Linked DNA regions of Homo sapiens: region 1 is linked to region 2. A link means that fine-mapping ties the variant in region 2 to the expression of a gene that starts in the linked region. Tissue or cell type: whole blood. Region 2 holds a variant in brackets; the other region holds the start of a gene. All regions are shown on one strand. Distances are between the middles of the regions.

Region 1 (2,686 bases), 130 kb before region 2:
TAGCTTTTGGCCTGGTCCATGCTTACTCAGTGTTCAGAGCAGCACAAAGTGCTGGCCTCTAGAAGACAGGATAGAGACCGCTGGTGAAGCTTGTCAAATCAGAACCCAGGCAGTAAGTCCTGTGTTTAAAACAGGGAATGTGAGGGCATTCCCACCTCAGATGCACAGGTGTTTAAAACAAGGCCTGGAAAGAGCCTGTTGGTAGGAGGGGGAAGAACAGGAGGGCTGCTACAGGGGGCTTCTCCCACTGTGCCCTAGTGGGCTGTGACAGGTGCAGGCTTCTCCACAAGCAACAGTCTACGGCAGCGCTTCTCAGCTATGGCCGGGCATCAGAATCTACCTGGGGACCTTCTGGGCAATAGCTGGGTTCAAATCCAGCTCTGCCAAGTACTATCTTTGTGACCTCAAGCTATTTACTTTGTCTGTCTGAACGTGAGTTATCTGCAGGATGGAAATATCATCTACCTCCCAGGGCTGCTGGGAGGGTTAGACAAAATGATGCAACTATAGCCTGCAGCACAGAGCTGAGGACATGGTGTGCACTCAGCAACCTTCAGCAGCACAGAGCCGAGGACATGGTGGGCACTCAGCAACCTTCAGCTGTGGCTGCAGAAGGTGAAGCCAGCTCCCGAGAACGTGGCCTGATCCTGCAGCTTTTCAGTACAGGACAATCTCACACCCCTCCCTTGGGGCTGTTCTCCTGTGCAGACACTGCAGTTTGTCCCTGTACCTTTTCAAGTGGGTCCACAGAGGGGCATGGATGTTGGGCGGGTGAGGGGCTCACCTTTCATCCTCTAGCCAAGCCTCTGGAGCCGCGTCAGTCCCACTGGCCAGCTGTGCTCCTGCAGTCTTGTTGATCTCTGTCACACCCACACTGCCCAGGCTGGAGGGCTCCTTTCTCCTCAGGAAGTCATTCACTTTGGCCCCCATGGCTTTGCCCAGGTTCTTGAGGTGCTGGCTGCTGCCCACCCAGAGTCCTGGCCCCCCAGGCTCACCAGAGCCCAGAGGGGCAGAGCCGGGGGCCACGGGCTTGGACAAGTGGGGGAAGGAGCGGCTGGCCTGGAGCTTTGGAGTGAGGGCTGTGTTCAAATTCTCAAACATGCCGTGGTCAACTATGAACAAAGAGGCGACAGAGAGGCATGATGAGGAAAGGGGAGCGGTACCTGTGCTCTATCATTCAGTTTTTCCTTATCCCACACCCAAAACCTGTAACTTCCAAGGCTTTGGAAATATTCAAGAAAGAGCCAGCAAAGACACTCTTGAACTTTCCAGTGTAGTTTTCTTGATGGGACAGGAACTAGAAATTCTAGCTCTGCCCCACCCAAGTTAATCAGTGACTAATGCTAGCCATAAAAAAATAAAGTTGTTCCTGTAAACCTGCCTCCTTGACTCATGGGCTTGGCCCCTTTACCTTGGAGTCACCACGCCCTTTGGAGTAAAGAAAAAATGAGGATGAAGCAATGAAACATGACATTTTTACATCACCGTAAGCACGTGCTGAGCTCTCAGTGGGTTGGAAGCTGGTGGAGGGATGGCATGGATGAGGCTTGGTGTTAGAAGCTCCCCACTGAAGGCCATGAGTATAGCACATATTCTCCACAAAAAATGGGGCAGCAGCTCCTCAGGTCTACAGAGGTGGGCCTTGAGCGAGTGGGCCAGCTCTTGCAGAGGTGCTAAGTGGTGGTTCAGAATCAGTTCGTACCAAATGGATAGGAACTCGGTGCCAGTGAAGCACGAGGATCCCAATGAACATCAGCTTACTTAATCCTTACAACCACCTAGGGAGGTGGTACATGGAAGGATATCTACCTACAGATGAAGCCTGCAGGACTCCGCGTAATGCAGTGCCGTGCCTGAGGTCACACAGCTAAATACTAGCAGGGCTGGAGCTAGAACTCAGGCCTTCTAACCCACAGCTCAGGGCTCTGTCCACAACTTTGCCCTGCTATAGATCATGGAACAGCTGCCTATATATGCCTGGTACATGGTCCTTCTTGTAGGGATCCTCTTTGGCTTGAAAAATTAACTCAAAGAGCTGGGTATAAACCCATTAGGTTGTAAAGATTTGCAAGGCAGAGAGCATGCCTCATTCATCTTTGTATTTTCAACACCTAGCCTGGGTTTGGTACCTAGCTGTGCTCAATACAGATCTTGAATCGCCAAAACCCATTTTGTAGATAGAAAATTGTGGTGGCCAAGGTGGTAGCTTAAAGGTTTGTTATTGAAATGACTGGAGCTCCAGGCTCTAAGCCATGCTGTCCACACACTCACACTTGGCCATCCTCTCCCTATCTGGAAATCCAGCTCAGTCATCAGGCAGCCAGACCCACTCTGAGGCCTTGGAATCTGGGTCAAGGTTTCTGTCTACACCAACTACCCCAGATATGTTGTCAGTCTGAGGAAAGGAGATCGCTCGATCATTTGATGACTAGGCTCCTTTCCTTGTGAACACCTCTGCTAAGTGTCTATTTTCACTGAGCCTCTTCTAAGAGTAACTGGGGTTAGGGTGTACTTTTTCTTCTGCTGAATTTTTGTGTAAAGCAGTTCTTTCTGCCCTGCACTGCTGTATCCCGGGCCAGTGAAAACCTTTCTTGTGGTTTCAGTGGTGCTATCCTTTCTAGGCCAACTACCTAGGTATGCCATATTCTAAGGGCCTTTGGGTGGCAGGGAGGAAAACCTGTGGGAA
Region 2 (2,686 bases):
TGTAAGTGGTTGGCACTTTGAACTATTAAATGATTAAAGGGTCTGGAATCACTAAGAGATCATCTCAAAGAAGTGATTTCTTAATGAGGGACACATTCACAAGCAACTCTGGGATCTGGTTCAAGATGACCAGAAATAAACAAAAAAAAGGCGTCCCTGGCATTTCAAAACTCAGATCCTAAGACTTCATGAGAAATGACATTTGCAACATCAACTACTCTGCTCTTAAGAGATAGGAGACCCCGTTACTTCATATATGCTACACATTTGAGTGTTAATGTACATACGCGCATTTGTGTGTGTGTATCTATGAGAGGGGGAATTAACAAATTACATGGATTTGTGTATGTGTGTGTGCCTAAGAGACAAGGAAGGAAAACAGTGCAGTTGAGAAAGGTGAAGCAAATGTGGCCAAGTACAATGAGTGATGCTGTTGTTCAAGGACAGTTAATCTTCACAGGCAGTCTGAAAGGAGACAGTAAATTAAACAGTGTCCACAATCGGTGCGGGGATTGGCCAACAAGGGAAAATCCCAAGGACTCACAAGGAGTTAGATTGTTACAAAGACCTTTTGGAAAGGGAGTAAAATCCATTAGAAGATTAAGTTCAGCCCAGAAGCCAATGTAAGGAAAACAATTGCAGGAGTGTTTTTCAACACATCAGATGACAGAAGAGCAAAATAATCATTCAGACACTCTGTAATAATGCCAGATGTATTCTCATAGGCTGGACTACGGGGAGAGCTGAGGATGCTATCTGTCCCCTGTCTGCTTACCTCTATTCCAATTTAGCCAATTCTTTTTTTTTTTCTTTTCTTCTTGAGACAGAGTCTCACTCTGTTGCCCAGGCTGGAATGCAGTGGCGCGATCTTGGCTCAATGCAACCTCCGTCTTGTGGATTCAAGCAATTCTCCTGCCTCAGTCTCCCCAGTAGCTGGGATTACAGGCACCTGCCACCACACCTGGCTAATTTTTCTATTTTTAGTAGAGATGGGGTTTCACCATGTTAGCCAGACTGGTCTCAAACTCCTGACCCCAGGTGATCTGCTGCCTCAGCCTCCCAAAGTGCTGGGATTACAGGCGTAAGCCACCGCACCCAGCATCAATTTACCCAATTTTTATTTCCCTCATTCCTACCCATAAAGACTGGGTTAGTGCTTAAGCAGAAAATAATCACTGGCATAGTTTTTTTCCACCCCTGCCCTCACCAACGTTTCTCTTGTTTGTGAGACTAGATTTTGCCAGTGAGTTCACAATGCTACAGAGGTCTTTCTTTAAAGGATCCATTTGACCTTGCTGGTTCCATGGCCATCGATTACAGCTCTCATTTTGGCTGAGATGCCTGCCCTGATCAGCATCTTACACATAGCAGTGGAAAGTCTGGAGAGAGGAAATTGGAGAATGTGGATAGCTCAGAGCAATGCATTACCTATCTTACCAAAAAAAAAAAAAAAAAAAAAAAAAAAAAAAAAAATCAGCAGCAGCAAATAACCTATGCATCTGAAATCCCTACCTTGGGCCAACTGTCTGGGTCTCCTGACCTGAAACAGTAAAAGGAGCCACAAGAGAGGAGAACACTGTTTGGGGAAGAGTCTAGGACACTGAATTC[A/T]GTTTGGCCAGGGCCAGCTGAAACAGGAAATTGCAGCAAAGATGCAGCTTCTGGAGAAAGACCTGTTGTAATAAAAAGCTCCCAGTTTGGAGTGAGGGGGGTGGAAAGTGACCAATCTATAAAACAAACTCTAGGAGCCACCTCAAAATAAAATGTTCCTCAAGGTCATCTGTGAGCCCTTGTAAGTACTTTAGAACTGCCTGACAGATGCTAATTAACTCTCCTGACTCCGCAGCCCCAGGGAGATGTGAATGTGTTTAACTGATGAGCACATTCAAGCTGTACTATTCCTGGAGCTCTAACTGCTTCTTGAAAGACCTTTTGAAGAAAATATTTGGTAACATCATAGAACGTCCAAACTGAAATGGACCACAAAGAGCCTCTTTAGAGAGGAAGAAGGAATAATAGAAAGAATATGGACTTGGAGAAAGATCTAAATCTAAATCCCAGATAAGGAATCTACCAGCTGTGTGAGTGCCAAGAAGTCACTTAAACATCTAAGCCTCAATCTTTCTTATCTGCAATATGAGGATAACACCACCCATACCACAGATTGTACTGGTAAAATGCATTGCCCTGTTCCCAGCTTATAGTGATCTACAGTTAGAGTATAATTTGTAATATGCTATAAACTATGGCATACTATAAAGTATTGTGGTAGTTAATTTAGAGCACACTTTCCTCATGTCCCTTCTCCTTTGTACACATTCACCAGTCGCATCCTCTTGTGACACGCTAGCTACTGTAGAAAACACATCCATGAGATTCTCAAGGCCTCCCACTCCTTACCCTAAAATGGCCAACATGTTTGCCAGCAAAGTGGTGGAGGAGCCAGCTTGCCAGCTTTAGCTCTGAATTCCATGTCTCTCGTGCTCCATCATCATCTAGCAGGCCCATGGCTTTGCCCTTTAAAACCACTGGCCCCTGCTGGGGAGGGTTAGTCACATGGGACAGTGGTAACACTCACGTTTGCACATTCACCCACAATGGTTCATGTCAGTCCCATCCAACAGCATCCTCCTAAACTGCTCCTGGTCACCAGAAATCCCAGCTCTTTGCCTGTGTTCTATAAACTATA

Which allele goes with the higher level. Positions count from the first base shown, and alleles are read on the strand shown. Sizes are in standard deviations (SD) of each study's normalised expression.
With allele A in place of T in region 2, the expression in whole blood of the gene that starts at base 1,275 in region 1 is higher (small effect, 0.40 SD a copy in GTEx).

What was found. PIP is the estimated chance that this variant, and not a neighbour inherited with it, causes the effect.
Region 1: C1orf226 starts here. The variant in region 2 is fine-mapped to the expression of C1orf226 in whole blood (GTEx, PIP 0.97).

Annotation. Positions count from the first base shown.
Region 1 is chr1:162,380,317-162,383,002 of GRCh38, reverse strand. It overlaps C1orf226 (chromosome 1 open reading frame 226), which reads right to left and starts at 1,275. Exons shown (of 2, transcript NM_001085375.2): 1 at 785-1,275. The coding sequence starts at 1,101. RefSeq lists a silencer at 330-624.
Region 2 is chr1:162,254,278-162,256,963 of GRCh38, reverse strand. The region is part of intron 2 of NOS1AP (nitric oxide synthase 1 adaptor protein); the gene reads right to left. Among named protein-coding and RNA genes, the nearest start is that of MIR556, 87 kb to the left of the region's middle. The variant A/T (reference allele first, on the strand shown) is at 1,609.